2 linked regions of the Homo sapiens genome follow. The protein of the gene in region 1 interacts with the protein of each later gene in a biochemical or structural test. Each region holds a gene or a part of one and is shown on either strand. Other genes may lie near its edges. The genes, in order: FLRT2 and UNC5D.

Region 1 (16,978 bases):
GCCTTCCACTCCAGTTAACTTCTTGGAAGTCCAGAGCACTTAGTCAAAGCTGTTTACAAAATGCAAAGCATCTGGGCGGCCAAGGCAGAGGCTCCTGTGTTCTCTATGTAACCGCCTCCAAAAAAGCTGGGAAATTTCGCGGATCAAAATGTAGGCGCTTAAAGCTGACCCTCTGCTGTCAATGTTGGGACTTAGATACATTTTTTGCATCGTCATTCTTGTGTGTGTTTCCCGTTTATTCCATTCTAAGGCTCAGGCTCGCGCTGTTTCTCTCGCGCGCGCTGTCCCCTCTCTCCATTTCCCATTCACACATCAAACTCCGTCCTCCGCACCCCTATCTTCCCGTGTCTTCTTAGTTATGTGAATGTGTGTCATTAGGCTTACTCGGACACTGGATGGGTGAGTGGGAGGCAGCTTTTCTTGCGGTTTCATTTACACTTGGCATGGGTGGGTGGGTGCCCTCCACAATTCGTCTCGCACACGGAACACAGTTAAAATCTGTAGCTAGAACGAGTGAAAAGTTCCGAATCTTTAAAGCGCAGCTAGGACAGGAAATAATACAGGGTTGGGGGATGTGGACGGGGGCGGAGAGCAGAGAAGTAAAGGAATAAAACCAACTTCGCTGGCAACTTCAATAAATCCGGTAACTGGAGGCAAAAAATAGACTCCGAGGGCTGGGTCTGGTCCGGATGAAACGCTAGGGCTCCTTCCCTTCCTTGAATCTTGGGCGCTGGAAGCCAGCCACGGGCGTCTTGCCACGCGAGTGCCCCTAGACAGCAACACACCCACTGGAAACGCACGTGAACAAAGCTCTCGCCCCCGGGAGCCGCTGCCTGCGGTTTCCTAGTCGATCCCAGCTTCTCTAGGGAGTGTCAGGCGCACACAGGGTTAAGTTAGTTCCCTCCCTGGTAGGAGGGAGAGGAGGAGGAGGGGAAAAGCAGCATACTGTCTCAGGCTGGGTACCTTGTAGTTAGTTGTACGTTCGAAACCTGTCGCCGTCACTTGCGCGTTTGGCATTATCCATTGTCACCGCGGAGGAACGAGCGCTCGAGATATCATCAGTGCCCGCAAATCTCCGCGCCAAGGCGCTGAGCTACTCCTTTCCGAGGTGCGCCTCTGGTCCTCCGTCCCTGGTGCCCAGCAGCGGCGAGGCGGCATCTCCGCTCCCGCCGCCGTGTCCACCGAGCCCTGGGATCAGGGTGGCAGTTCTCAACGATGGGCAGGAGGGACCTCGGCGGCGACCCCTAAAACAATACCATGCCCCGGGATCCCCGCTGCTGCCGCGCCAGCGTCTTCCCTTTCCACCTCCCTGACCCTGTCGGATTCGGATGAGCCCATTGCAAGGAGAAGACGCAGCCGTCAGGTAAAAGGGGCTGCGTTGCCAGGTGAAGTTTCCAGTAACCGGCCGAGCTGCTGCTACGCTGGCACCACGCTGTCTCTTCGGGGGATTTTTTTTTTTTGAAAGAGCTGGGGGTGGTCATCTTAAGTGGGGTGCTCTAGGCTTTGTCTTTCACCTGGAGAGAAAATAGGCAGCTTAGCTCTCTCTCGACTTTGGGGACATCTGTCTGCTGGTCGAATCCACCTCCTCTACGGAGCATCATGACTGAGTTCTGGGTCAAAACGCAAATTTTCTTGCCTGGTAGATGCATCGATGCTAAATTGGGGTTCTCAGTGCCCCTAACCTTGTCAGAGTTCAGTCTCCTACTTCCCTAGATTGAATCTCTTAACTTTCACCAGTAACAACCCTCTCCCCTCCACAAGCTGTTGTTAATGTCACCAGCGTTATTATCAGGCTGTTGTATCTAAAGACACCAACCTACTACCTGCCCGTAATCTGGGATCTATTAGCAGTTAAACAGATGCGGTGGATACTAATTCCTTTTCCTTCCAGTTGGTGGGGGCGGGTGGGGCTTTTTCCAAAACCAAGTCCCTTCCAGCCCTGCTTGTCCTCTTCGGGCTGGCGGGCACTGAGCTGGGGCCATCACGCCTTTCTAGAGCGCCTGCGGAGGTGGCGAAGGCTTGGAGAGCATACGAGGCGGAATCCGGATCGAGTGAGTTCCTTGAGCCGCTTGCGTGGGACGCAGGGAGAGGGCGAATAACGCCCTCAGGCGCTGAATGCAGGGGCAAGGAGCCAGCGAGGGTGGCTGGAGCAGGCCTTGCCAGCTGTTACCAAGTCTCTCCACAGGCTTGGGGGCTTGGGGCCTCCTGGAAAGATCCCTCCGCCGCGCTGACCAGTACGGGGCTCGCTCCCGCACTTTGAAGGCTGCCGCGGTCTTTCGTCATTTATAATCAAGCCCAAGATCAAGGTTGCAAGCTGAGGTCGGGGTACTGACAACGGGAATGAAGCCATAGGGGAAGAGGATAACTGGGACGGGCTGGACCCATACTTGATACCCGGGAAACTCCTAGAGCGTGTGGTGCTCCTGCCAGCGGCAGTTACTGGTGGAGCTGAGGCCACCGCTACTGTCGTCGTTGGCGCTTTGCTTCTGGAACCTCCCAGCAAGATGGCACTCACTGTCTGTTCCCTTCCGATTAGCACCCCCAGCCGCGCTCCCTCCTCCCCGGGATACGTATTAGTCACATACTGTGGGGAGAAGATGGGCTATGTAAATGTAAGTCAACGCGCTTTCCCAGCCACCTTTGCATAATGCAACAGGAACAGCGACCCGCGCGCACGAACCGGGTAGTGTGCGCGTGTGTGTGCTCGCGTGTGTGAGCGCGTGTGCCAGCGTGCGTCTCCGCGCGGGCGTGCGTCTGGGTGGATCCTTGCGTGGCTTGGGAGGCAAATCGGGCGTTTCTCCAAGTCGTCTTAACATGATTTAGGCTCTCAAATACGTGAAAGCGGTAGACACAACAGGGATGCGAAGGAAATAAAAAACAATTGGGGAAGTGGTGCCAAGTCACTCAGGCTTTGAACTGAGGACGAGTAGTGCGGTCGCGCCTGGGGCGCGTCCGGAAATCATCCTCAGCCTGTGGCGGCCACTGCCCCACTTAAACTCTTCTGCGGGGAGAGTTGAGCGGATCCCTGGGGGGTTGGTCCTGGGCTAGTTTTAAACTCTCCGGTTGCATCTCGCGTGGCCCCACCGACGGCGCGTCTCGGCGTAGCTCTTGGCGCGGGCTCGTTCTCCCTCTTCTGTTCAGATTCAGCCTCACCGGACTTGTTACAACATGACAGCAACTTACTGGAGGCAGGAAGAGCAGCACGAAATAAGATGAGAAAACCAAAAACATCTCCTCCTTCCTAAATAGAGACGTGCACCTAGCTTTTTTTACTTGTTTGTTTGTTTTTTACATTACCCTTTAACCTTTGGAAAGAGACTGCGAAGTGGAAACGTTGCCTGTACAGAAATCAGGCTTCTTAGCTGTCAAGACTGTTTCCTAATCTTTAGGCTGAATCTTTCTTTGTCCGCTGCAATCTATGGGGAAATTTAACAACGCTCTTGCCAGAAGCAGCCAGGTTGAAGGAAGAAAGTGGGGGTGTTTAAATTAATCCTATTAAATTTTGGATTACTCCCCCAGTTAAAGTCATTTAAGGTGGTCCAGGATGAGGGAACTAGTGATGGGGTGAGGAGTGGGGGGCACATCACCAAGGTTGCCTGCATTTGAAATAACGCCATTTTGGTTGAGAGGTTTGCTGTATTTTACCCTCTAATCTCACATTTCGATCATTTCTCAGTGTCTAAGTAATAGATCCTCCCTCTTGGCAGTACACCATTAAGCAGGTATGGGGAATTCTCCTTTCAGGGTTCAGATGGTGACATTATCCCTAAGGACTGGTGGTAGGAACGGCATGTGCCGGGTAGATAGAGAGAAGGTCAGGGTGGCATCTGCCGGGTTAGCCAGGCGCTCTTCAACTCTTTTCAGAGAGGACAGGGTTAAAAGCCAAGTCTGACTTTGCCTCTTGGAAATCACTGGGTAGCAGCCGCGCCTCCCAAGCATTCTTTAAACCAGAAAAGTAGGAGGGACTCCGGGAGAGAGGGAGGGAATGAGGGAGGGAGAGAAAGAGGGCTCCAGGAGCGGAGCGCGCCAGAGCGCGAGGGACGGAGGGAGAGGAGGAGCGCGGGAGCTGCGGAGGCGATCCCGCGAATTCATTACTGTAAACATATCCGGGGGTGTCAGGAGGGGTAGGGGTGGGGGCCGCGGCGCCTACATTAGCCCGGCCGCGTCGGATTGAGGCAGTAGTGTGGTCTGAGCAGCCTCCAGACCCACGCCGGGCGGGCGCAGCACTTGGAGCGAGCCCTGCGCCCGCCCCCGCGCAGCGCCGCACGCCCGGCTCCGAGCTGTCCGCACACACGCGTCGGAGGAGAGCCCGCCTAGCTCTCCCGCCGAGTCCCGGGATCCTCCAAATCCGAGGAGCTCCGGCGCCGCGGGGCAGCTTTCTGCCGCCTTCCCCGCTCGCTGTACTTCTTTTGGGGTTCGTTGGCTTGGCGAAGCGGAGAGGGGGAGGCGGAGGAGGAGAGAAGGCGGGGGTCGCGGCGGCCGAAGCCAAGAGAAAGTGGCATGCCCGAACCCTGGAGGCGGTGGTGGCGGAGGACGGGGGAAGACGATGCCGCAGCTCCGTAGGGGACGTAGGCGAGAGCAAGCGAGGCGAGCTGGGCGCCCCGGCCCCGGCCCGCTGCGGGGAGGCGCGCGCCGCTCTGAGGCTCCGGCCTCCGCACCCCCGCGCCCCGACGCTGCGGGCGACAGGGCTTGGCTCCAGCAGCCGCCGCCGTCGCCGCCGCCGCCACCCGGAGGACCCAGCAAAAGTTTGGATCTGGGGGAGGGCGCGGCGCTGAGCGGGATTACCACCAGGGCTGGAAGGAGACCTCGAGAACCTTTGCAGGTAACGCGCGCCCCCAACCCTCTTCTTCCATGCCCCGCCGCTGCGCTCCCGCTTCCTCCCAGAGCCCTTCCTGGCCCTCGCGGGTCTGGCAGAAAGTAAGAGGGAGGCGAAGTTCAAGATCCCGGGGATGAGCACCGAGCGCTGGCAGATCACTAGTCACGTTAGAGGGGCAGCTGTGCTGAGAGGCAAATTCCCCCAGGAGTGGGTGAGAACCCTCAGCCCCAGCTGGTGCCTCATCTTGTAGCTCTTTGGAAATTTGGAACGTGAATCCAGGGGCTTTTAGTATTCTTCAGTCCAGAGAAATGGTTCATGGATTTCACTTACCGCACGCTCCCCCCTTCACACTCTCACCCGTTTAGCATTTTTAAAAAATGATTTGAGCCCACTCCCTACTCTCCTGCTTCGTTTAGCTGGACAGCAAATTTCAGGGGTGAAATATTGCAAGCAAAGAGGAAAAAATATCCTTTCCCCTTTTGACATCCCTGGAATCCTCCTTCCCTCCCTTCACCTTCTGGCATCATAAAATAGGAACTTTAGAAGTTACATTTTCAGGGGTGAGGTGAAACGTGTTAGCTATTGGTGATGTGAATTTGCCACGACTGTCCGTATGTGTGTCTGTGTGTGTGCGTGTGTTTGGGGGAGGGGGTTAGTGGTGTTGCAGAGAGGCGGAATTTTTCTCGGTGGCCTGATGCGCAGTGGTCCTAAGGTAGTGAGTGGCCGCGTGTGCGCATTGAGGCGGCGGCAGCGGAGAGAAGACGGTCACGTTTCCCGAACGGCAGCCTTACTTAGGCTAAGAAAATAGCTGCAGCTCACTCCAAAAGCAAAAAGATTCCAGCCCCAACTCCCCGACGCCCCCTTTCCCCCAACTGAGTTTTTAGTTTCAAAGCAGCTCAGCGTTTGCTGCTATCTTTATTATGATCATTATTTATTCGCCTGGAAACTCATCCTGTCTTCTCCTGTGAATGGGAATCAGTCTTCAAGAGCTTTTGATTAATTTTAGTAAGAGAATCTCTTGTAAAGCTTACAGTTAGCTAACCAAGTGTAAGGCACAAATCCGTGTAAACGCTCGCTCAAGAGTGCAAGGTGCTGATTAGATTTCTTTACATGCTGCATTTGCTATGCAAAGCCTCTTCTAAATGGGAGCTATTGCTCCCCACTCAGCTGGGAGGCTCTTTAATCACACAGGGTTTCAGGGCGCTTTGGAGCATGTCCACTCGCTCACAGACTTATTGCTAAATTTATTATGTCTAATTTCTCACAACCAAAAGCTAATCTGAAGGCTAGCTTCCATATCGGACCGATATTATCTGTAGACTTAACCGGTATGACCTTAATAAATATCCAATGAAAAGCCCCCCCCCAAAAAAAAAAAACAACAACATTTTGAGGTAAATAGAATGCAGATTGGCATTTGTCCAGGGATATATTAGGTTGTTCAGTGTGAATGTAAAATTTTAGGTCCGTATTTGAAGTGTTAGAACTAGATTCTCACTTGTTTTCATTACTGAACAACATGGGCCAGCTACTTATGACGGGCAAGCCACCAGCCACCATATTAGCAGAGAATCAATCTGTAGGTAATACGCATACCATGAAAAGTTACTTCTTTCTCCACAGCGTTATTGCGTCTGAGAATACTACTTCTCTTCCTCCCCTCCTTGAAAGCCCGAAACAGGATAGGGTTAAACCATTTAGGGATTTTTTAATAATCACTGAAGACAGTGCAACACCATACTGTCATGTTGAGTTGCAAATATCTTTGACTGGAGGAGGTTGGAAGATGAAATTTCAAACATTATTCCATGTCTCTGCCAGTAGAGATACAAGAAATTGTAAAAAGAATTGGGCTAGCTGTACTGTAGCAGAACCTATTACAAACCTAGCATGGAAGGAATGCTGTTTTTTTTTTTTTTTTTTTTTTTTTTTTTGTTGTTGTTGTTGTTGTTGTTGTTTTAAAGCCCATGTCTTAACACTTCAGTAGTTTCATTGCAGTTTTAGAAATTCCAGGGGATGCTTTTAGCAGAAGAAAGTAGATTCCCAAATGACACCATGCTGGGCTACCCTGGAGTCCCCAAAGCAGTCCTGGCTTTTCCTGTATGTTAGGTTTCAGATGATGTGATCATATACGAGTTTGACTTTGACCGGCTGGATCTAATTTGAACCTTCTCTGATGCCCGTTACATTTATATTCTGGCCTGCTGGAGAGTTTGATTTAGGATTTAGACAACTTTATATTTTCCCAGTTTGAAGCTGTGGTTTTAAGAAAGGCTCAAGTATGTACAAGTCCAGAAGCTTTATTCTGTAGAGACCCAGTGTGAACATCTGATCTAGTTTGACTCTTGAGCTTTGTACTTTACAAGGAAGAATTCCTGCTTCTGGGATCTGAAGCGTCTGAAGTTAAAAAACAGCAAGGGTGCCGAGCGGCTTTTGGTTTTGCTCTCTGTTTAGAAGATTCAAAAAAGGTCAAGGTGATGTAATATTTGTATTCAGGTCAGACTTTTCTGGATAATCATCTTTTGATATCTTTAATTTCAATTCGAGTTCCTTTTTCACTAGATTACTTTAATAACTTTGTGATTTCTGCTACAGTGATTCAAATTCAGTCCATTAGTGACCTCTATCTGTGAGAAGTGAATACTCATGGTTTTTTTTTTTTTTCCTTCTCATCAAAGTCTGAAGATGACGTCAGGGTGCTGGGGGTGAATCCCAACAGTTCTGTAGTTCTTTCTGGATATTTCAGTTTACCTAATTTGATTTTTCTAATACAGAGTTCAATATGGATAATGACATTTAATTACAGTAATAAAAATGTTATGGACTAATAGAGAGGCAACTAAATGGTTATTCCATATAGCATTGACAGTGTGATCAACATAAATAAAACACCAGAGCTATCCACTGCCAATGAAGGGATTGTACAGTCAGGCTGACTATTGTTTTGGGACTCACAATGCTGCTGAATGTAAGTGAAATTTTATTGCTCCTAAGTGCTTACATAACAAGGGAAACTTGAGACGAGCTCAAAATATGTATGTGGTAACTAGACTTCATGGTAGCTGTGTGTATATGTCTTTAAATTCTGCTGTGCTTCTACTGTGAACTTATGGTACAGATCAAAGAGTGTGAGAAGAGTATTTATAAACAGATGGTCCTTTTAAGGAGACTTTAAAAATCTGATTCCTAATCCAGGTTTGTCTTGTGAGGGTTTTCAGATAGAAATTTCAATTTTAGCCGATTATTTCAAATGCTAATTGAAGACAAAGTTTACTGAATTTCTTAGGTGGGTGGATACCATTATCTGACATTTTCCAGATGGTTTTTGATCTAGTGGTATTTGGGGATATGGAATTTTTAGGAGGTTTTCTTTCTTTTCCCTTGGGCAATTTTTACACAAAAGACTTTTTTAAGACTAGCTATTATTATTATTAAAGTTAAACAACCATTATCTTACTTCAGACAACTTTCTTACTTTTTCTACTCTCCAAATTGCTTTTGTGCAATTATATCTTTCTTCTAAAACTACATGTCGCGAATTGACGTATCAGTATACTTTTACTCCTTTCAGTAATAAAGGACCTCCAATTACGTATCTGTTTATAGTAAAACACACACACACACACACACAACACACACATACATCAAGAACCATTTTAAGACAGAGATTCTTTTCAAGGTTTGAACTATGTTCCTTTTTTAAAGGCTATGACACAAATATTGTAATAAAAATATCCTGTGTTCTGATGAATACAGAGACTTATTTCATTCTCATGGAACAGTAAAACACTGTACTAGTAAAATAATCAGTGGTATTTTGAGTACATGGTCAAAATCTGTTAGAACCTTCATGTTTTGTTTTTTTTTTTTCTTCCTTAGCGAATTTCACATCTACTGGTGTTTTTGGTTTTCTTTGATTCCTTCTACTGTGGCTCTTTGAAGTGATTCAAAATTAAACAGTAGCTACTTTTTCAGGGAAATTCATCATGTTGTGTTCAGGATTCCAGAAGAGTTAATGATGCAGAAAAAGTTCTGTAAAACATCTTTCTAAAAGAAGTCCTTCTCTTGCAAGCCTCCCACTTACTGGCCTCCTGTACCATTTGCAGTGAATTGGAACTCCGTTATTTATTTATTTTTCAAATACCACCTCTAACTTAATTTAATGTAGGATGTGTTCCTGCAAAAGTGTGCAGTGCCATGTGCCTTGAGTCACCCAAACAAAGCAGTGTCATTGTTACATCCGGATCTGTTAATCAGGGAAGGTCAAAGAAAATATTCTTATATAATTTGGAAAGTCAAAAGGACACGTTGATGATTCTCAAACACTGGTCAGTTATTCTGCTGATACTTACTAAGGACATACTTTTTCTGGCAGTTTAATGGTTAAAGACCTCAGCCATTTTTGAAGCATTCACAAAGTAACTCTCTGGAGCTACTAACCATTAGATGCTCATTAGAACTGAGCAGTTTTTCCCCCCACTTTGTTCCCAGGTTACTTTTAAGGGAATGTGCAAGAAACTTGGAAAAAGGTCTTCTGTTCCCTTCAGTTCACATGTCATACTGTTATATTTCAGTTCTCTTTATTAGAGCTTTCAAGACACAGATAAAAGAATCTTCCATCTGAACCCCTTAAGAACCTGAGGGCTTTTGGATTTCAACCCACTGAAAAAATATCAGGTCCCAAAGTTTATAGATGATATTAGGCCTCAGAACAATTGAAACCACCTTCAGCAGGGAGCAAAAGAACAGTGGCTCCTAAAATTGGTTCACAAATATACTGTCCATTGAAGTCAACAGAGGTCATATGGCTGAATGGAAAACATTAGACGCATATCAGTCCTGAAATAGGTTCACATGCTGGTGTCACTCTTAGCCCCAGCTGCCTCTACATGTCACGTTCATCAGAATCTAGCATCTAAACAGCCTCTGTAATGATTTCCTCTCCCACTTTGCTCCCAAAATTGGACTCAAGTACTTAGACAAAGGAAATAATGCAAGGAATTATAATATTCATCATATCTAATAGACAAAGTGGAGGTAAGAGGTTTGTTTGCGTGCATAGGGGCCATAGAGGTTCCAGGAATCTCTTTTTAAGATTGATTTTGAGAGCACATTCGTATCCACCCTCATCACTCCGGGCCCTTACATTTTCCAGTTCTCACATCCAGGATTTCATTTATTTCTCACAACTGCCTCTGAATTTATACAGGAAAGTCCTACCTGCCTCACTTCTGATTGGGTAACTGGAGCCAGAAAGAAGTTAAGGGCTACTAAGGCTGGGCATTTTACATTTTATCATACAGATGTAGAATTCTGCAGATAGAATTGAGAAGTTCCATTCTTTATGAAACCACCCAAAATGATGAGAGTTGTTTGTTTTCGTTGGAACAGTAAAAAAAAATCACAAGCCTAGAAATATTTTGATTTAAAATAATAGCATTTCACTCTTCAGCATTAGATTAGATGACAAGTTTACCTGTTCTGAATGAGTATAATCCTATGATGTACGTATTTGGCACTTTGTGGTGGGGAGTGAGAAATAAATGAGATTGCTTTGGGGGAAGGAAAAGAAAACCTACATTCTCATGTCAGCATGCTTCTTTCTATATTCAGCCTTGTATGAATTACTTAATCTCCTGGAGACTTAATTTCCTCTCTACAGAGTTCAACAGAGTTGTTGAGAGGTCACATAAGATTAATGTGTGTGAAAATACCTTGATAACAATACAGTGTTATATTCCTATAAAGAGGCATTATTCAAATTGATAACATTTATCACTGCATGCCTGTCTTGTGCTATGATAGACTAGGTTTTATATAAATAAAATGGTAACCAAGACAGAGTCCTGCCTTTCAGGAGCTTTCGCTCTTACGGCCTCAAGAGATATCATCTAACCAATACACTGGCTGCTAGCCCCTGCATCATTTCTTCCATTCAGTTAATAATGGATTATCTCCTTTTCTGAGTTTGCGCTATTTTGATGAAAGTATCCATTTTAAGGATAAATGATAATTAGGGTGAGTTGAGTTCAAGGGTCAAACTTTTCTTTTGATTTTGGAAAGAGAATTTTGAGGATTTTTTTTGGAAAAATAAATCATCAATGTTTTCTGAAATGAGGTCGTTTCTCTTTTTGACTGGATTTACAGTTTAACTATCCAGGTTACCTTTTGCAAACACACACCAATAGAAATACAATGATTTTTTAAAATTTTGTTTTGCAAAATAAGGCAGGCTAGTGCAAAAGGGACATTTTGTAGTTTGGCAAACCTCCTCAACCCATTAACAGTGAATAGAAAGACAATTTATTATGAAGCCAACGTGTATTCCAAAGCTTGGCTTTATTTTGATGTTAGTGTCATTAAACCCTGTGGAACAGTTCTTTACAGTGTATTTCTGCATGTTTTGTTCAGTTCTGTTTTTACTATTGTCAAATCTGAGACTCTTAATTTTAAAGGTTCCAAGAGTGAGCATGTTTATTTCTCTTTGCTAAATTGTTTACATTTAGACCTTTGTAAAGGTTAATTCTTAATTGTTTTTCTGTTGCATAGTTGAAGGCTTCAGAAAACAAATGCCTTGGTGAAATCTATATTTATAAAATACGTGGTTGGATCCCGATTCTTGGCCAAAATGAGTATTTCTTTCGGTGATTTGAGGTATGAAGTCTGTATCCAACAACATTCTTTTCAATCTATGATTTGCTATTGTCGGAGTTCTGACACTTGCTTTTTTAATGTTTTTTTTTTAAAGTTGATTAGTACTTTAGCAGTACATTGTAAAGTATGTGGCCACAGAACTGTATTTTAACATGGAAAATTACTTGCATAGTTCGGCAAAATTAATCTGAATACCTTTTGTACTGGCAGTGTTGAATGATATAATATTTGAAGAGAGAAAATATTTGCTACTACTTTAAAGAGGTCTACTAATAAAATGAGAATCATCTGTAGGTATATATGTGGGGAGTTAGTACGTGTTTATATCTCTGAAATGCACCAACAAATATAAGTCTTATGTACTATGGGGAGGAAGTATGGTTATAGCCTGAAGCTAGGTAGTGCCAGTTTAGCACATATGTCCTTAATATGATAAAAATAGTGATGTAACCCAAATAGTTTTTAATTGGTGATTTTCTTTTTCCAAATAGGTCTTAGGGAAACTGTAAATGAAGAAAAGTACAAAATGCAATCAGAAAATATATTTAAGTCTGACTGGCCTGATCTTCATGAAGGAGATATTCTTATGGAGGTTTCACCAAATGAAGAAAGCTTGCTCATTCATTCAGGAGATGATTTTTAGCACTATCCATGAACTGGGCATAGAGTAAGATGGGACAGGCCAAAAGTAGGTAAGGCATGATCCCTCCACTTGAGGCCAGCTAGGCTAGTGAGCAGAGAGGTAGACACAAAACCTAATTGCATTGCAGTTTTATACAAGATTGAAGGGAGTGCAGTCAACACTAAGTATGCCAGAAACTCATAGTGTTAGTGAAAAGAGCTCTTCATTTGGAGATGGACAGTCTTACTCTTTGTCTCCTTAAGTAGAAAATGGAGGAAAATGGAGGAGTAGCTCTTTCTACTCCTAGAGCTATTAATTTTAGGATTGAGATAATTCTTTAAAATGTCTACCTGTTCTGGCACATAGGAGAGGCCTAATGAATGCCGACTGTAGGTCCTTCTGTCTCCAAAATGATAATGATTTCATTGTCTTACCATTACCTTCTACTGACTTGTCTCAGTTTGGGGAATGAACTGGGTCCTAACTTGGACTTTATTTGTTCATTGAAAGCATAGCCTTTGTGGCAATTAATGGGTTTATACCCACCCCCATGCCTTCTACCTCACAGCCATGTGTCCTTCTGCCGATGACACCAGTGCCTGCAGCTTCCAAGGAGTTCCATGTCTAGACTATGACACTGAGCTCAGTGAGCCATGGTTATGTCCTTGCCAAAGTACAAAGATTTTTATCAAAATGAATTTTAACAACTTTCCTCACACAATTCACTTTATACATGACTCTTGGCAGAGTCATGAAAATATTTTATTGTAGAAGATTAGCATGTAAATTATCGTTATGCTTGCTTAAGGCTTATTCTATCCTTATAGAATGATTATACCTTGCTGTGTACATTGGAATCAGAATGATACTCTTGGGCTATGAGTTCATTGTGGAACTATTTCTTTCAGAAGATAATTTTCAATTAAGTAAAGGAACTTCTTACTGTTTCTACTGCAGATACTTCTGAACAAATAGCAGTGTTCAGATGTCCTGGTAAAAATACATGGTACTGGGGTTATTTTTCATTTATCATTATAATTGCATGTATGTATAGTATAATTTCTGTGTTCCATTCAACATTTGAGATTTGCCCCTGTTTTTTTCAACACTGTGAATCCGTAAATTTATTGATGTAGGAAAGCTATATTTAACAAGATGTTAGGCATGCCCCAGACCTCCAAGCTAGGAAACACATAGGCTTTTTCTGTTAAGATCACATAATATATAATGTAATATATACATATAATTAATCAAATTGGACCTGAGAGAAGCAGGCACTAGAGTGTATTTTGTAAGCTGTTAACATCTTAGTAAGTAGCTTCTGAACCAACATTCAACCCAGCATAAAACAAAAAGACCTTGTTTTGCTACTTTAGGAAATGTAAGAGAGATTAAAATTCTTTGGGAAATGGTTTTAAAAAGTAGTTTTGTACTCAGATAGGTAAAGAACAAGTCCAGTGGTGCTGACAGCAATGGAATTTAAAACTTGATTCTAATAATCTCTGAGTCCCGAAGGAATGCCACGCAGACATCCGTTTGAGTCACGAGCTTGTAACTGAGGATTTGACAAAGATTGAGTCCTCACTGTGTGCCAGGCACCATGCTAAATTTTGTGCTAGGCACTTGGGATACTCTTTCAGACAAGACTTTGTCCCTGCTCACAGAGAAATCTGATAGGTTGGCCTATAGTCACTCTTTTCTAAACTTGACCTATCTACCTGAATTAACCGAAGGAGCTGGTTAGAAATACAGATTCCTGGGCCAAGAAGAAGAACCTAAAGTCCAACTTCCTGTAACCATCAACACATTTAACCCTGTAAGTTTAGAGTTTATTGTAACCTTCTCATGCCCTTTGCTATACTCAGTGTGCAAATCATGAAGACTAAGGTGGATCCTGTTTTGGTGGAGATTCTGATGTGTTAAGTCTGTGATGAAACCTGGGAATGTGAGTTCTTGAAAGCTCCCATTATTGGAAATCACTGAGCTAGATAGTTTTTAGAATTTTTTTTCTGACCGGAGAATCAGTGCTTTTTATAGTTGTCTGACTTGTAGTCACTTGTGACTTTCTGAAAGTTTTTCTGTGTATTTTGCCACATAGAAAATATTGCTCAATTTAACTCCATCTGCTAGAAAAGTACCTTCAGAGAGGCTAGATATCAGGGCTGGCTTCTCTCTTGGTAGCGGCAGTCTCCTGTCTGTTCTCCCCACCATCAGTGTCCCCTAAACCATTGTACTGTTTTTGGTGTCCCCAGAATTAATTTTCTAAAAAAAAAAAATAAAGAAATCACATCATATTCCTTTAGAAACCTATATCTTTGGATAAAGCCCATCAAAACTTGTTATCATGCCACGCAAGATCCGTGACAATCTAGATCTCAAACCACTCCTCAGACCTCATTGTTCAGCACCCATCCCCTGTACCCTCATGCCAAACATGGTGAGGCATGGCCCTCTTGATACTTTGCCTTTCCCATGCTGTTTACCATTTACCTAGAACATTATCGCATACTCTCCATTTGGCAAACTCTTCCTTTAAGAGGCACGTGGATGACACTTTCCCTCCTGGTTACTCCTTTCTCTGGGCTTCTACAGAGTTTTGTTTGAACTTTGATTGGTTCTCTGTTTATATTGTATTATAAAATGTGTCTGCTTACATGTCTATCTCGCTCATTAGACTTTAGGAACTTTGGCCCATTCATTTCATCTCTGTGGTGCTAACAGAGTTGCCCAGTGTACCGCATTCTGCAAAAATGTAATTGAGTTAGTAAATGGAATAGCACTGACCAGACCTGGAACACAAGAAGATCTTCATAATCCAGTGAGAAGGACTGCTTCCTCAGAAGTATTTTTTTATTCCCATAGATTGATTACCCAGTGGAGGGGGAAGTACAACCACCACCTTTCTGCCTTACTCTGAGCAGGTTTGTCAGACAAATATTGGCTGGTAAACCCAACCTTGATCAGCAGCAAGCTTTCCAAACCACACATGAGGCAATTCATATGCCACACTGGATAGGTCTGTTTAAAGAATAATAATTTCGCTTGATGATACACCTTTCTTGGCACTGAGTAAAACTATCGGTTACGTAGATGTTCACACAGATGTGGTTTTCCACAGAATGAGAAATTTAACTCAGCATTAACTTTGTGTATCTGTCTTGGCATAATTAACAAGAGCAAAGCAAAGGTCTTGTGAAATTTTGTGCATTTGCTCTCTTCTTTATTTTTTGCTTGTTATTATTTTGTTTATTTCATCCTAGGCCCATTATTTCCTGATAGAGGCCTCTGAGGACCCAGGGCTCTCCAGAGAAGGGAAAAGAAGGCTAGAAATCACAACGCCTTAATTTGGCTCCACAAAATAGGATCCATCTTTAGTCTTCATGATTTGCACATTGAGTACAGCACAAAGCTTGGGAAGGTTACAATAAATCTAAATTTATATGGTTTAATGTGTTGATGGTTACAGGAAGTTGGACTTTAGGTTCTTCTTGTTGGCCAAAAGAAAATTCAAACAATACTTTGTTAAGTTTCGCGGTAGATTGCCATTTGATGGACAAAGTTGACTTGCATGCAAGTGGTGTATTTGCAAACACACATTAAACACACTTCAATCCCTTCCTCCCCTTTTTTCAGCAAAACTTTTCAGTGGCTGAAAAGAGTAGAAGAGGATAGAGCACAGTTTGATATGCCCCTTCCTAGCCTTTGGTTTCATCTGGGCTGTCTGCATGTTGGGAATACTTCCCAAGCCAGTGGGAAACTCGTGAAAAAACACATGAGATGATTTTTGATCAGACACTACCCCTTAATACTGGAGGCTTATAACACCACCCCAGATCTTTTCATGTTAATTTATGAGACTGTTTAGAAACAATGTGCTCTCCTGGTTTCTTGAATTACAAAGAGTATTGGCAGGGCCAACTTCTTATCCAGAAGTCCAGTAATAACAACAGTAACAACAATATTAATAATGATATTGATCGTAAGGTTTATTTAGAGTGCTGTTTATGCAGTTCATGTATATTATCTCATCTAAACCTTGTACAGTAGGTTCTGTTGATAAAAGTTGTGAATAGCCCCATTTTACACAAAGGGAAACTGAAGTAGAGAGAGTTGCCTCAGATTGCTTGTTTTACTTTAGAGTTATTATTAATTGTCTTAAAAGGGTAGATGGACACTGGATAATTTCCAAAATCAACTCAAAATTTGTTTGTCCATGGCTTAAAAATCAAATTCAGAGGTGATTACTCACTGTCCAGTAGGTATAAATGATGAGCTGCTAACCAGTGGTCCAACTTTCTATATTTGTCTTTTCGAGTAGACAACTGCCTAAGAAATCATTAGTTAGTCTGCCACTTTTGGGTGAAAGAGATTCATGAGTCTCTCAATGTATTTCTGTAACATGGAAATAGTGAAGAATCATTAATTTGAAAACAAAGCATGACAACTTCTAGCACATTTTCAGTACTAAGGAAAGCTTGTGGATACATGCCTAATGATTAGGGGCTATATTTATTGTAGAGAACACTCTCCATTTTTTCCCCTTACCCTTTTACCAGCACTGCTAAATGGATTGATTTGAGATTCACCTCTTTTTCCCTGTGGAGGTGATAATGGACAACGGAATGACCAGAGGGAAGATAATAGCATAAAGTGTGTGGCCTCTGAGAGGGCCTGGGAAAAATGGAGAATTGACTGTGTTATTAATAGGTCAGCTTCACTGGTTTTCAAAATCTATGTAATTGCTCAGGCGGTAAGCTTTTATTGGGTGAAAAAATGATGAGAGATGGGCTCGGAAAGGCTTGTTCCACATTGATGAATGGAAAATAAGCACAGTATGTGCTTGCAAATCTTTACACTATTGAATTAGATTTTTGACCATCCCTCGC
Region 2 (16,978 bases), on another chromosome or scaffold:
CTCTCAGTCTTAAGTTCCCAAATTGGGAACAACCTGAGGAACTTAAAACAAACAAACAAACAAGCAAACAACAACAAACAAAACCCTGGGTCCTTCCCACTGAGATTCTGACTTAAGTGCTCTGAGATCAATGCCTTGGCATCAGCTGACTGAGAACTTCAGAATTAAACTCTTTCTCTTCAGAATTTCAATTACACACATGGGTGTTTCTATAAACAAGGGTTACATTAAACATTTGGGGCTCATCTTTTAATCTAACGTGTTCCAATAAAACCATTTAAACTTTTAAATAACTTAAAAAAACAAAAAAAAGTAAATGCCCACACACATTCAAAGCACCTATGATGTTCTCACCTAACCCTAGGTGAAAATACTACAGATGTTTTCCTTTCTGCAATTTTGAAAAAAAAAAATGGCTTTCAGTGAAGACAAGGGATTTGTAGATTCAAAGCCTGACCACTATTTCTAGCAGCAAGACACTTCACTGATAAATTGCTAAAAATAGCCAAACCTTGAATATTTTGACACCTAATCTCCAAGAATCAAGAGTTTTCAACACTTCTCCAGCAAGGTGGCTTCAACATGAATCATCATAATAGAGGCACAAGAGTTTCATAAGCTCTATACAGGGATTGCTTTTTGCACGTTATTATGGTCACAAGAGATGCAGAATTCACTTTAAAAGAAACTCAGAACTGCATGAGAAGAAGCAACCGAAGTTTTTATTTATTTATTTTATTATTATTATTATTATTATTATTATTATTATTATTATTATTTTGAGACAGAGTTTCCCTCCATTGCCCAGACTGGAGTGCAGTGGTGCAATCTCGGTTCACTGCAACCTCCACCTCCCAGGTTCAAGCGATTCTCCTGCCTCAGCCTCCCGAGTAGCCGGGATTACAGGCACCTGCCACCACACCTGGTTAATTTTTGTATTTTCAGTAGAGATGGGGTTTCGCCATGTTAGCCACTCTGATCTCGAACTCTTGACCTCAGGTGATCCATCTGCCTTGGCTTCCCAAAGTGCTGGGATTACAGGCGTGAGCCACCACGCCTGGCCACCAAAGCTTTTAAAAGTATATCCAGTCACTCTTTTTGGATGTAAATTTATGGCTTTTTGAGGATATCATGGACATATTACTGCCAACATGGAAAGCTGTCTTCAAAATATATATATTTTATGTAGATTTTATATATAATTATATATAATTTTATATATATAATATATATATTTTTTTATATATTATATATAACTTTTATATATTATATATATTTTATATATTATTTTTATATAATATATATTATATAAACATATATAATATATATTATATATGTTTATATATAATATATTATATAAAAATATATAATATATATTATATATGTTTATATATAATATATTATATATTTATATTATATATGTTTATATATAATATATTATATATTTATATAATATATTATATATTTTTATATTATTATAGAATTATATATAAAATATATTTTTAAAATATAAATATTATATATATTATATATTATATTTTTATATATTATATTTTATATATTTATATAATATATTATATATATTTATATATTTTATATATATTATATATTTTTATATATTTTATATATATTATATATTTTTATATATTTTATATATATTATATATAACATATATTTATATTTATAAATATATATATTATATATAACATATATTTATATATTATATCTATTTCATATATAACATATATTTATATATTATATCTATTTCATATATAACATATATTTATATATTATATCTATTTCATATATAACATATATTTATATATTATATCTATTTCATATATAACATATATTTATATATTATATCTATTTCATATATAACATATATTTATATATTATATCTATTTCATATATAACATATATTTATATATTATATCTATTTCATATATAACATATATTTATATATTATATCTATTTCTTATATAACATATATTTATATATTATATATTTTATATAACATATATTTATATATTATATATTTTATATAACATATATTTATATATTATATATTTTATATAACATATATTTATATATTATATATTTTATATAACATATATTTATATATTATATATTTTATATAATATATATTTATATATTATATATATTATATAATATATATTTATATATTATATATATTTTATATAATATATATTTATATATTATATTTTTTATATATAATATATATTTATATATTATATTTTTTATATATAATATATATTTATATATTATATATATTTTATATATAATATTTATTTATATATTATATATATTTTATATATAATATTTATTTATATATTATATATATTTTATATATAATATTTATTTATATATTATATATATTTTATATATAATATTTATTTATATATTATATATATTTTATATATAATATTTATTTATATATTATATATATTTTATATATAATATATATTTATATATTATATATATTTTATATATAATATATATTTATATATTATATATATTTTATATATAATATATATTTATATATTATATATATTTTATATATAATATATATTTATATATTATATATATTTTATATATAATATATATTTATATATTATATATATTTTATATATAATATATATTTATATATTATATATATTTTATATATAATATATATTTATATATTATATATATTTTATATATAATATATATTTATATATTATATATATTTTATATATTTTATACATATTTATATATTATATATATTTTATATATTTTATACATATATATATATAGAGAGAGAGAGAAGTTATTTAGGATCTCCTAGTAGATTCATACTGAACAAATTTATTATTAAGGATCCAGATGTTAAGTAACTGGAACAAAAGCTTAAGATTAAGACTTAAGGCACCCTAACTTTCACCCAAACACAAAACGAATCTATAATGCAAACCTTTTTTACAATATTATTTCTGCTACACCAAACTGCATCCATCATATCATGACCTCAGCATTCTGTAAGCCAAAGGAAAAAAAAAAAATCTCTGTAATTTCAAAGATATTTTAGAAAAATATAAACATTTAAATAAAAGGAAAACATCCTTTAACAGAAGGGTAAAATGATCAATAGTCTTTAGTCTTCTGGTATCATTCTTTTGAATTCCTTTGTGCCTCTATTGATTACTTTTGTTATTATAAGCCTGAAAGGGAAGAGGCAAGGACAACACTGAGAAAATGAAGACCTGGATTCATGGGCAGGGACGGACGGAAATGACCTCTAAAAGCCAAGCAAGCAACTTCACTCCTCAACACCTTTTTTTCTCATGTACAAATTTGGACTTTGGCCTGGAAATTTTAGGGCCCTTTTTAGCAATGTAATTTTATGATTGTTTTTCTTTGCAAATGGGAAACAGAGAGCCACAGAAACTCAGTGATCAAATCAGTGTTCAATAAAGGGCCATGACATAACACTATTCTACAAATCTAGAAAAAGTGTTGTATGCCCACAGCTCAAGCGAAGATAATTACTGAAAATGAGGACCAACTGGCTCCCTGATTCTTTAAATCTCTTAACAAAACATGACCAAGTCATTGATTTGAGACAAACTGGAGGGCCGAGTGCCATATCTTGTGAGTTTTGCTGGAGTCGTGATGCTTCGTGAAAACAATTTGATAAGACTTCAGATCTGCAAGTTTAACATGAAATTTCATATATCTGGTATCTACTAAAAAAAAGAAAGAAGTCAATCTAGCAAGAGGGGTCCCATACACCCAACTGAGCAATGGTGAGCTATGGCAGAGGGTGCCTAACTCCTCCAGGTCTTCTCCTGCCAAACCACTTCTGCATTAGTTATACATGTATGCATTAACCTACAGCCACTGATTTAAGAGAAATCAAAACAAAAAAAAATAGATTTCTCTTATAGTTGGTACATTCTTGAAAATGCTTAAGCCAAGGATTACCAACGTCATTATGAAGTCCCATTAACTTGTCCTGCAATTTCTATTTCCAGAGTATTATCCCTTTACTGAAGGTTTGATGCATATTTAAAATGCCAAGAAAAGCTTCCTGAAATGATAAAAAAATAATGTGAATAAACGGTACAGAAAACAAAGGGCGGCATCACGGAAGTTCAGAGCAGGAAGGAGCCTTAATGACAATTTAGTCACTGCTTCTCCTACAAATAAAAAGAACTAGAGAAAAAAGTGATGTTTCAAGTACACATAATTGTGAACTTTCTAGCCCCCCACATTGCTTAAATGGAAAGGAAGTTTTGACTTGAAGAGGAGAAAGGAAACAAGAAAAGACCGAGCATAGGGGGTTAGATGGGAGACACCATGGAGAGTGAAGTGATGGTTAGCAGAATTAAGCAGCTGACTTTTGAGTCAAAATTGTGATTACATCCCAAGTTTAAGTGTTACTAATGCCATTTAAATTAATGGCATATAACTTTAATGATCTAAGTTTGCTATGATGATGATATATGACATTCTACTAATATATAATACACACAGATATCCATGAATTACAGTCCTTATCACCTTGACAATTATTAATAATTGACTCTACAATGGTCTTCTCCGCTGCAGAATGTGGTAGGTTAGAGCTGTCTTTTCACATTGATATCCTGGAGACTGATGTGCATTGCAAGTTAGCTGCTAAACTTTAGAAAACATCAGATGGATATTTTTATTTTTTGCTCTAAGTTGAAAAATAAAATTAATAACAAACCTGTTATTTCTTTATAGCAAACCCCCAAACCCTTATATCCCTCCCACACACCTCACACTGACAAAACCTGTGAACATCCTGATTGCTTTTTTTAAGAGAAACAACTTTGGAAACCTCCCGATACAAGCTGCTAGTAATCACTGCAGCTTCTGGTCCCAAGACTGAGAGAGAAACAAGGGCTGTCTATTCAGAGGAAGGATAGATTCTTTCTTTTCCCAGTTCCTTTCAAAAGGCTTACAACACAGTTATAGTTCTCTGGCAAAGAACTGTATTTTGTGCTCTGTATTTTTTTTCCATCTCTCTTAAAAAAAACAGGCTAGACACTTCTTAATGACATATTGATGGAAATTGTTATTATAAGTCTAATTGTATTGTGCCACTAAACTGCTTTCGAACACAAATCAGAAGAATTTCGCTTTACAACTGGACACAGAAAGTAAAAATAAAGCACATACACTCAAAAGTAATAATAAAGACGAGGTATTTAGAAAAGTACGCAGATTGAGGAGCTAGTATACTTCTAAAAAATTGGTGTCTCTAATGGCATATTTATTTAATTAATTAATTTTTTTGGAGGGACAGGGTCTTGCTCTGTCTCCAGGAATGGAATGCAGTGATTATGGCTCACTGTCACCTCAAATTCCTGGGCTCACACAGTCCTCTGACCTCAGCCTCCCGAGTAGCTGGGACTACAGGCACGAACAACCACGTCCAGCTAACTTTAAAAAAAAAAATGTGCAGAGAAGAGAGTCTGGCTATGTTGTCCAGGCTAGTCTCAAACTCCAGGCCTCAAGCCATCCTCCCACCTCAGCCTCCCAAAGTGCTGGGATTATAGGCATGAGCCACTGTGACCAGCCTGTAATAGCATCTTTAAAAACAAAACCTGAGAAAAACTACTGTAATTTGTTATTTTACTTACTTTAATAAACTACTTTAAATCCCCTGATTTTTCAAAAGTTCTTCAGAATATTCTACACATCAATTACTCCATACTACAGCATGTTATTTTTAATATATTCATAAAGTTACTGTCCTCCAATCATTCCTGACACATTTGTGACAGCCCTTTGTCACAGACAGGGCCATTTCTGTTTATAACCATGAGAAACATACCACCCTACAGACCAAGAAGGCACAATAGGCAGTGAAATGAATTTTTATCCATTTATTTCTCTTTCTGTCTCCGATGCTTATACATCCACATCCCTGTCAAATGGACTATGAGTGAAGTGCTGTATCATCCCACCTCAGTATAATCAATCCATGTGCTAATAAAATAGAATTACATGGTAACATCATCGAAAAGGCCCTGAAACCATGAAGGCTTGGCTTCTAGTCCTAGCACTGTTTATCACTACCTGTTTAGGTTTGTTCGACTTTGGTCAAAAAATCTCTAAAGTCAACCTTAATTTCATCATCTGTTCAATATTAGGGCGGGTACAAAGATACAAAGCAATCAGAATTAAGTGAGTCCCCTAAAAATGTTAAGTTGCATGCACATGAATTAAACAGCCACGCATAATAGGACCACATGATAGATGTCACTTAATCATCTTTCTAGAAGAATCTATCTAGGAATGTAGGCCTTAGTATCTGTCTAAAACAAATGTCAAACCCTCTTACAACTATTTTATTCTTCCTCTGGTGAATAAAGTTTCCTAAGGGTTTTATCACAGTATTGATTAGATTTTTGAAATTTTATTCTAAATATTTATGCCTTAATAAAGTTCGAGTAACACACATTATTCAACATGTGCTATGGGACAAGCCCTATCAGGTACTGGGTAAGTAAAAGTGAATGAGATGGAACTTGCATCAAAGGCAGAGGGGCCTGACACAACCTCCACACCATGTTGGGATAAGGATCCAACCGCTTGGGAAACATCACTACCCCATATGGACTCACTGCTCTGTTTTTTTTAAAACAACTGTTCTCATTCTATCTCTTGCTTAACTATAGCCTCATCCCCTCATTATCCTGAACTTCGGATCATTCTTAAGCATATGTAGCTCCTGCCAAGAGAATAACGTGAAAGAGTGCTACAGAAAGTTAGAAAGGCCTCTTATTTAACAAAAATCTGACTTTGGGCAAACTGGTAAAATTCTGGGTGAGTCAATTTCCTCTTTATGACAAGAAATAAATTAGATGCAGATATAAGACCCCAATTAGCTCAAAAGGAAATCCAAGACTTTTAAAATATTGTGAAACTGGAGCAGCATCTTTCTTTATAAATGCTTTATATTGCATCAGGACGGCGCCCTCAGAATGCCTATTTGTTTTATAAGTGGCTGTTTGTCTGAGTTAAAATTGACATTTGTGTTTTCTTACTCTTCAATTGGCATTTTAAAAATATTCTTACATGGAATTCCACTTCATACTGGCTTGCAAAAGAAAAAACAATATTGAAAATAGAAAACAAGAATTACTATCATCCATGGCCCCCAGATGGTGTCATCTGGGAGTTTATCAGAAATGCAGAACCTCAGGCCCCTCCCCAGGTTTATTAAATCAGAATGTGCATTTTAACAAGATCTGCAGTAATTCAAATGCACATTAACATCTGAAAAGCACTGATTTGTGAGTTTCAAATATTACCAGCTTAGCTTCCATAACCCATGATCATTTGACTTCCCCTTCTCTCCCAGTAGGTTTATTACACTAAATTAAAATAAAGATGTTAACTACTAAATAAGTACTGTTGCTAACAGAAGACACCAATGACTTCTAAGCAACCCTAAACTACCAGATATTTATTTAGAGGCAAATCTTCTCCAATATTGAGTAAATACGTTCTCTTTAATAATAAGTTGCTGGCCAGGCACGGTGGCTCATGCTTGTAATCCTAGCACTTTGGGAGGCTGAGGTGGGCAGATCCCGAGGTCAGGAGTTTGAGACCAGCCTGACCAACGTGGTGAAACCCTGTCTGTAAAAATACAAACATTAGCCAGGCACAATGGTGCATGCCTGTAATCCCAGCTACTCGGGAGGCTGAGGCAGGAGAATTGCTTGAACCTGGGAGGCAGAGGTTGCAGTGAGCCAAGATCCTGCCACTGCACTGCAGCCTGGTGACAGAGCGAGATCCCATCTCAAAAATAAATAAATAAATAAATAAATAAAATAATAAGCTGCCAACACCTGTGAATTGTATCACACAAAGCATAGTCATCCCAGTGGTGGTGAGTCCCTTGAAGTAGTTCAGACAGTTTCTTCACTGTGGCCTCTTGCATCTTCTCCTTCCTATGCCTGCCTACCAGTTACTTACCTTCCCAAATGTCTGTGATGTCATTTCCCCTCTGACTTATCTGACTGGGAAGCCATAGCATTCAATTTAGGTAACGACAAAACATCTGTAAAGTTTCTTATTCAAATCCCACGTGGTTACAGTGATATTTTCCCACCTGTGGAAAAATACCCTTAAATACAATGTGGGCTGGAGTGGTGGGGGTACCTGTACCAATCTTTCTGGGAAGGAGGGTTCTTTTGCACCTTATGAATCCAGTAATTTGGGGGCAGAAAGTCAATATTTGCATTAAATAAAGCCAACATTGACCTCTCTTGGAAGACAGCTTTCAACTTTTTCAGTCTCCTCATTTATAAAATAAACTATCAAAAGAAAAGAAGTTGATAAATGGGTACAAATATACCACTTAATAGAATAAGACCCAGTGTCTGATAGATCAGTAGGGTGACTATAGTTTATAATAATCTATTGCATATTCCAAAATAGCTGAAAGAGAACAATTCAAATGTTTCTAGCATAAAGAAAAGATAAATATCAAAAGGTGATAGATAACCCAGTACACTGATTTGATCTTTACTAATTATATTAATGTATTAAGTTATTACTTGTACCCCAAAACTATGTACATGTACTATGCGTCAATTTTAAAAAGTGTTAAAATTTAAAAATAAAAAATAAAAGCTACTCTGAAGTTTGAAAAAAAAAAAGTGAGACTGGTCATATAAGAAGAATACTGACCTCATTTTATCCTTGTCCTGATAGAAACAATATTCAGAAATATTTTATGCTCTATAGTGGCCTGATATCATCTGAAAAATGTTACTACTTGGTTATTGTTTCTACTTTAGCCCCATAAACACAACCCTCATATTTCTATCACTGAATTCAGTGAAGTGGTGTGGGGGGAGTGGTGGTAGGGTGAGCACAAAATACTTACACAGCGAAAACATACTCCTTTCAAGAGAAAATTCCAAAACCACAGGAATTAGCAGTGGATTTCAGATAACACAATCCAAAATGAATACATTAACATCCACCTAATTCTGAAAATTATCTACGCACAGCGTGTGTATGCACACAATAAGGCCATACGATGCAATGTGGCACAAACAATTAAAAGTTCTTTTCAAAGTGGAAATGCAAAATAGAACGAATATCTATTTTCTATAAATGAATCTAGCCATCTGCCTCACAAGAGCAGCAGCAGGAGTACCCAAAACAGCAGAAACAGCAGCCTCTGGTGTTAACAATCTATTCTCAAATCTCATGCTCCACATTTCCCTGGCAAACAAGGCTAAAAATACAAGACATGCAACAAATAGTCTCGTGGGATCTGCCGTTCCATGGATGGCGTATTCAATCAGAGTCATATTTTCTGCCGAAATTCAAAATTGAAAACAAAAGCAAGCTATCATATTGGAAACTGGCACTCAGAATTTTAAGTGTGAATCCAATCCCAAAGTATAGTAAGCTGAATGGGGAGAGGGCGGTTATTTTCAAACAACACAAATCTTTCAGATTTATCTGAACATATTTATAGACTTATTTAAGGTACTCTAAATTCCTCTATGCCTCTTGATAGTAATAAAGATATCATTTGAGTACTTTTGTCATCAAAATACAAGGGTCATTTTCTTTTCTGCATAGTTCAGAAAAATTGTCTTTGTTGTGGGCCCTGGAGTCAGATGGAGTAGGTACAAATCTAGGCCCTACTATGTCCTAACTCCATGGCCTTGGGCAAGCTTTCAATCCTGTGTCCCTCTTTTCCTATCTTACCAATGGGGGTAATCACAGTACTTACCTCAAAGAGTTATCTTCAGGATTACATCAGTTAATGTTTGTAGAGCATTTAGAATTATGACTCTCACACATGAAGTAAGTACTATTATTAGGAGTATTATTTCATACTCAACTAAGTATGAAAGTATTACTAATAAGTATTACTATTATTTCATGTAAGTATTATTTCATATTCAAACAAAGTTGCAGAAATGTATTTATTATTTTAAGGAACAGGTACAATACAAAAAGAGTGCTAACAACATGATAATAGGTCTTATGCCGGCAGTAGCCATTTAGAAAGTAAAGGGGTGAGGCCAGATGTGGTGGTTCATACCTGTAATCCTAGCACTTTGGGAGGCCAAGGCAGAAGGATCACCTGAGCCCAGGAGTTCAAGACCAACCTGGGCAAAATAGTGAGAGCTAATCTCTACAAACAAACAAACACACACAAAAAATTACTGAGCCGGGTGTGATGATGCATGCCTACAGTCCCAGCTACTCAAGAGGCTGGGGTGGGAGGATCACTTGAGCCTAGGAGTTCGCCACTGCAGTGAGCTATGATGGCACCACTGCACTCCTGCCTGGATGACAGAGTGAGAACCTGTCTCAAAAAAGAAAAGAAAAGAAAAGAGAAAAGAGAAAAAGGAAAAAGGAAAGGAAAGGAAAAAAGAAAAGGAAAAGAAAGAAGGAGGGAGAAAATAAGTGTCTCTACATAGAATATGTGACTAAGAATGAAATAGAAATAGGGAACGTTTCCATTGATCTATTCTGTTGAGCAGTTAGTTCATGAAGGTATCAGAAGGAGGAGGAAGGAAGAGAAGACAATGATGTTGCTGGCCAAGTAACAGCCTGGACGAAGGGACAATCAGCATTAATGGCAAAGGTGTAATCAAGAAGGAGGGCACATCTGGGCTCCCTGTGAACACATGTGCCTTCCCATTATGAGGGCATCACACACCACCACCACCCCCTTCCTTAAGAGGATGCTATGGAATAAATCACTTGTCTTTGGGATTAGATTTTAATACATGTCTGAGTCTCTAGCCTAGATATTAAAAAAAAAAAAGCAGAAGGGAAGGATATCAAACATGCAGTATCTCCCAATAAACCAATTCCCTGATAAACACTGGCAGTGCTTTAAGTTGGGTACTGCATTTGGTAGGAAGAGGACAATAGAAACAAATTTATGAAGCATTGAGACAATAAACAGAAAAGTGATTTCCTAATCAATAAGACAGCGCAGTGTAGAACTACCTGACGGATTCAGTCATCCAGTCCTGAGAGAGCTCAGAAAGGATCCACAGCTCCAAATGTTTCCCTCCCCTGTGAGGTACTACTTAAAGAACCACAGACCCACCGATAGGTCATCTGGAGAGCAAAAAAAGTATGCAAAGGGTGACAAGTGCTATCATTATAGGGCTAGGTCAGAACAATTAATCTCTTATTAAAAACTGAGATGCTTAAAAGATCTCTTAAGAAGGTGCCACTGGGCTGCTCAAAATAAGAGCACAACCCAAGAATCAGGAAAAAATAAGTCTGGCAGGAAATAGGGGAAAAAGACTCTTTCTCATAGTCCTAGGAAGAGAAAGATTTGTGAGGAAAAGGAACAGAAGAAGTAAAGTGGGAAGGAAGAGGGTGGCCTCACAACATTCATTAAGGTAGAAATGACTATAGATTTTAAACTTTATGAGCTAGACAGATAGACGGATTTAAGTATGTGTAAATCACAAGACTATTATTATGCCTATGTAATAAATGTGTACTTCTCTTGCCATTAATGCATTACTCTAGTTATTGCAATCAAAATTTCATTGTCCAGGAAATGTTTTAAAGCAAGAAATTGTATGAAAGCTCAGCTTGTCTAAGATTATCTTCCTCTCTGCCTTTAATGACTACAGTATCTTATGTACAGTATCTAAGGCAAAAATAACAAGCAGATGAACAGCAGTCCCCCTTTTTTTCTTGAAGAACAAAAACAAATCAGTATGACAACATGATGTGGATTCAGTTAGCACTTGGCAGGTCATGAATAACTTTTAAACAACCTCCTTTTAAGTTGGAAAGTGTAAAAATATACAGTGATCATGGCACCAGAGTGCCTTCCTTACAATATGCCGACAGGCAGAGATGTTCATCTGAAGAGCTAAGTCTTACTTACAAAGGAGGGAAACAGAACATTGCTTCTTGGGCCACTACTGGGCTCTACAACATTTCCTTGTCCCAAGGGTCTTCCTCCTAGAGTATATTCAAAACCAATTTGAAATCTCCCTCTGATTTGCAGAGGTTTCTACATAAGTATGGAGGGAAAGGAAAGAAAAAAAAAAGTTGGTGCAATCATTTTGGAAACAGATAAATGATAAATATGGTAAAGAAAACGCTACTGAATTGTTAAATATTCTCATAACAGCAAGGCAAATGGCATAATTCTATACCCCGTTGGTTAGGGCAAGCAAAGTATCTTGTTTCAAATCAACAAGAAAAGTCCTAAAGAACAAAAACTATTAATTGGATAAGTAAGAACAACCTAGGGCTAATCCTAGAGAGTATGGTGAGACTAGTGGTCAGGCAAGCATGCCACACCAGTGCATCTTATCTTGGTTTTAATGAATGGACACCTTTCTGGGAAGGGAGAACTTCATAAGCACTGAAACACACCCTCTATTCTGAAAACTCCAATTACACCCAACTGTGCAAAGCCAGGTGCATGTGGCTTCACCGGTTTCACAGCCTGACTAGTGCTCATTTCTTGAGGACTCTCTGACAGTTGCTAAGGGGAATGGGCCTCATGCCCCAGAATGTAAAATATGACATGGGAAATATCAGTCAGATTTACGGCTCCACTCCATGTGTCTTGCATATTACTATGATCTGTGCAAGACATTTGTTGTAAATAAGCCTGCAGAATGTACAGCATGTTTTCCAGGAGACCTTTAAAGAACAGCTTGCAGACAAGAGGTGCTAGCCTTAGTTTCGCAGCCAGCAAAACTCCATCCAAGAGGCTGCTGGCATGTCCCCACCTCTTGTTTCGAGCTGGCTTCAAGACAACGTCACCAACCCAATTCCAAGGGTGAGTACCTGGAGTTAGTGACTGTGAGGTATTCCACACGAATAGTAAGTGGAAACTCAGACATTTAGATTAACATTTAGAAAAGACCCACTTTTCCCATAAGAGTGTATTAAAAACAACTGAGAGCTGACTTTGCAATGAGACATTTGCCGTACGTAGTAAATTAAATGGCTGAAGCTTGTGCTTCTTCCAGTACGAGAAGGAACTGTGGTTCATCATAACCCAGGGTGTACAATCACCGACGCTCATTTTTAAACCTCCCCTGCTTCTTACAAAGCCCGCTCCATTAAAAAAAAAAAAAAAAAAAAAAAAAAACTTTTCAGGAAATGAAATGCAAATGGGCAAAGAATAGGATCATACAATGGAGAGCCTCTATCAACCTCTTAAAAAGAAAATCTTTCTAGGCAGCCGGACTGCTTTTAACACGCCATAAGCTTTTATAAAAATGAGATAACATTGGTTCTTTTGTGATCGTCCTCAACCCTTTCCACCCTTTCACTCTCCAGGCTGGTCGGAGCATGTTCAGGAGACCGAACAGAGCAGGTGAAGTGGTCAGCTCAGCTCCACCTCTCCCCTGGCAAGTGTAAGGCAAATCATTTAACGGTATCACATATTCTAAGCCTGATGGATGGAACACAGAGAAGGAAAAAGGGAAAGAAGGGCGGGAAGGCAAAGCTTCCGATTTTTTTCAAAGGTAAAGCTCCGGTACTTGAGCTGTGTCTGAAACTGCCTCTGATCATCTTCAAAACAACTCCTTGGGATTTATCTTTAACTTGATGCTGCCTGTCCTCGCTCAAGGTGGAGCTGAAACCAGTTGCGAAATTTCCCTCTGCTGGAGTCCAGAGGATCCAAGAAAATGGGGTCTAGGCTTCTAAGTCGGAAAGAAGCAGAGGTTTCCCTGCGGCTCGGTGGGGCCCGCGCTTCCAAGCCAGAGTAGGCGCCGGGAAGGGAGAGGAGGCGCCTGGTGAGCAGCCTCGGGCCAAGTGCTCATCCCGGCTGGGCACTGCAGGCGCGGTTAAACTGGGATGGTGCACGCCGCTCTCCCGAGCTCCAGGGCTGGCTGGGACCTCGGGCTAAGGACGCCCGAGGGGTGCCAAGCTAGGCGCAGAGCGAAGGGACTTCAGCATGGGTGTTCCTCCCCTAAGGGAAAAGACACCCTCTCTGTTCAAGCCCACCCTACAGACACTCCCATCACCTGGCCCCTCTCCCCAGGAACTCTCCGACATCGCTATGGGCGCTAACTCATGACCAAGCTCGGCTTGAGAGGAAGTGGAGAGGAGAGGGGAGAGCGAGATTGGAGTGAAGACCGGGCTACTCCAGTCTGCAGCAATTGGGGAGGGCTTGGAAAATGGAGCAGGCAAGGAGGGTCCAGGAAAACGGTAGGGGCCCGGGTCACAGCCACCTGTAGGATTGCGGCAGATCGCAAACTTGGGTTGGAAGGCTGTGGTCCCCTCGGAGTCCTCCACTCGGCTCCCATCCGGTTGGGCTTGGAGCGCCGAGGTGCAGGGCGCAAGTTGGGAAGCCAACGCCATCGGTGCAGGTCCCGCTCCGTCAGGCTGGCGCCCCTGCGCCCTCGCCCCCAGCTGCCCGCTCCGCCCAGCGCTTACCTCGGGCAGCCGCGGTCCCTGCCGCCCAGAAGCACAGCCCCAGCCACGGGAGCCAGCGGCGCGCCCCTCCGCCGCCGCCTGCGGTGGCCGCCGCTCTCCCCATGCTCCTCGCCGCGTTCCGGAGGGCGGCTCTTCTTCACGCTCCGGGAGCCCGGGAAAGGGTCGGCGATGAGGGTCCCGAGTCGAATGGGTCTCGGGAGTCTTCAGAGAGTGACTCTGCTCCACGATCGCTTCCTAAAGCAGCGGGGCAGGGAGCTCCGAGCCGCCGCTGAATGGGCACCCCGAGAAAGGGCGCGTCCCCATAGCTTCCCACGGCGCGGCGACCGCTGCCGCCAGCGCGGATGCCGGAGTCGCCCGCAGTCCCCGCCGCGCAGTTCCCAGCCCTCGCGCCGCTGCCGGGCCCCGAACTACGGAGCGGAGGCGAGAGTCCGCATCGCTAATGAGACCCCCGCAGCCGCCCCTTCCCCTCCCCTCCGAGCGGCAGCCAATGAGCCGGGCTGGGGCGGGGCCGCGGGAGGGGCGGTGACGCGGCGGCGCTGGGCTGGGGCCCGGGAGGCGCAGGTGAGCCAGAGGCCGCTCCACGTGCCCCCGGGGCGCTTCGGGCCCCGCCTGCAGCTCCCCCCCCCGCTCGCGGAGAGAGGAAGCGGGCTGGGAGTCGGGCGGCGGGGATGCGGCCACGCCGCGGGGAGCTGAGCGGAGCCGGCTGGCCTCTTGGGGCGAACGCCGCACAGATATGTGGGCATCTCGGTTGCCTAACTCAGTCACCTGCTTCCAGGAGACCTCCGTTTTGTTCATCTACTTTGAGCCCTTCTAAAGTCCTGCCTCTCCTACTTCCACTTTTTCCCATTAGATCAGACATCACTCAGGAAAACATCCTGAGAAAAAGAAAGACTTAAAATAAATGCGTAGTGGGAAAAAATAATAATGGAGTTACTCCATTGCTGCAACTATGCTAACTTCATTCATATAAATAAAGAAGTGGGGAATAACAATCATGGGTGCATTAAGGCTTGTATAATCGATTTTTATTTTTGCTTTCTTTTTTTTTCGAATTCCCTATTCTGTTGTCCTGAACACTCCGGAATCCCCAAACTTTTCAGAAGCTCCCTCATTTCGAATGGCTCCTATTTTTGTCAGTTTTAATCTGAGCCCAAGGAATTGCCTTCTGGTAAGTATCAGGGAAAGGAGTGTCGACTTAAAAAGGAAGAAGGTGAGGCGAAATTAATATAAGTAAGAGTTTATTTGGGCCAAGTGTGAGGATTGCAACTCAGGAGTATAGATTTAAGTTGTTTTGAATATATATTTTGATTAGTAGTAGTTATAAGTGGATTCTTAAAGGCAAAAAAAAGGGGGATGGGGAGTGGACTGATGTAACATTGTTAGGAATTTATACTGATTTATTGAAATAATGTCGATTAGTGATTAGTTATATATAGTTAAGTCATAGGATGTGGGTTATACTGTTTGATGTGGTATTATTAGGTTAATTTATAGCTATTTGTAGTAATAGTATGTAGTTTTAAGAAATGAATATATAGTTTAAAGGAAGGAGTAGGGCATGATTGTGGTCTCATTCTAATGTCTCTCTGGGCCTGACAATTAAAAGGACTTTGAAACGCGCTGGACTTTTATAAGAAGAAGGAAAGAAGACTCTTTTTTTTTTTTTTTTTAAGTGTGGCTTGTTTTAGATAGATTATCAAATTTTTATTTAACTGCTTTCGAAAATACCTCACGGTTGCCTCTTCCCTCTGCTGGAGGAGTAACTTTAGAGAGCTTGTCCTAGGTCACTCAATTTCAGAGCACACCCAGGAAGTTGGTGGGGAGTCCCAGGCTCCCCAATTGGACTACCTCATTATCGCTGCCAGGATCGAGTCCTCAAAATGGCAGCAGAGCTCACCTTTTGCCTGGTAATCCCCCATAGAAAAGGGAGCCTTGGTTTGAAAGGCAACCTTCCCAGCAGTTCCTCACTACCCACGCTCAACATCAAGTACTTTTCAAAAATCCATGTCTCCCGCCAATGTGCTACCTGCTCCCAAACGCCTTTCTCTGAAGAATAAACAGTTTAAGGTGAGGTAATTGTTCTAGATGAGGTAATTGCACTAACTCACTTTCTTCCGAGGAAAAGGAAGATAATAGGCAAAAAAGATTGATTCTCTGATAAGCACTTTTGTGCCAGCCCTCTCTTGAGTGCCACCAGACACGTGAATGTCTGTGCAAGAAGCCGATTGTTTCCTCCGGTCGCCTTGCGGCTCAATAAAAGGTTTGGGACCTAGTCAAGAAAACCAAGCTCTGGGGAATGGATGCTTCAAAGCAAAGACTGATGTGGGGCTGGCTAGGGACTTGCCTGGAAATCTCTTTAGAATCTTGGTAAATGAGGGTTTTGTCCTTTTCTGCTTAGAAGGTGAATTGAGAATTAATCTACCAAATATGCTTTACCTGTCTTCTGGAAAATAGTCATTCATCGCCTGACTTTCCTTATTCTTCAGGACTATGTGGCAGTTCTGTCACAAATGAGGATTTTCTTAGA

What was found.
Region 2: the proteins of FLRT2 (region 1) and UNC5D form a complex in vitro, tested with the Homo sapiens proteins (one study listed by BioGRID).

What each region holds. Positions count from the first base shown.
Region 1 is NC_000014.9:85,529,172-85,546,149, forward strand, and holds the start of FLRT2 (leucine-rich repeat transmembrane protein FLRT2 precursor), read left to right. Parts: upstream 1-972; 5' UTR 973-1,363; exon of another isoform or gene 1,364-2,612; intron 2,613-4,177; exon of another isoform or gene 4,178-4,822; intron 4,823-16,978. UniProt on the Homo sapiens protein: Functions in cell-cell adhesion, cell migration and axon guidance. Mediates cell-cell adhesion via its interactions with ADGRL3 and probably also other latrophilins that are expressed at the surface of adjacent cells.
Region 2 is NC_000008.11:35,233,361-35,250,338, reverse strand, and holds the start of UNC5D (netrin receptor UNC5D isoform 1 precursor), read right to left. Parts: upstream 14,865-16,978; 5' UTR 14,555-14,864; coding exon 14,452-14,554; intron 1-14,451.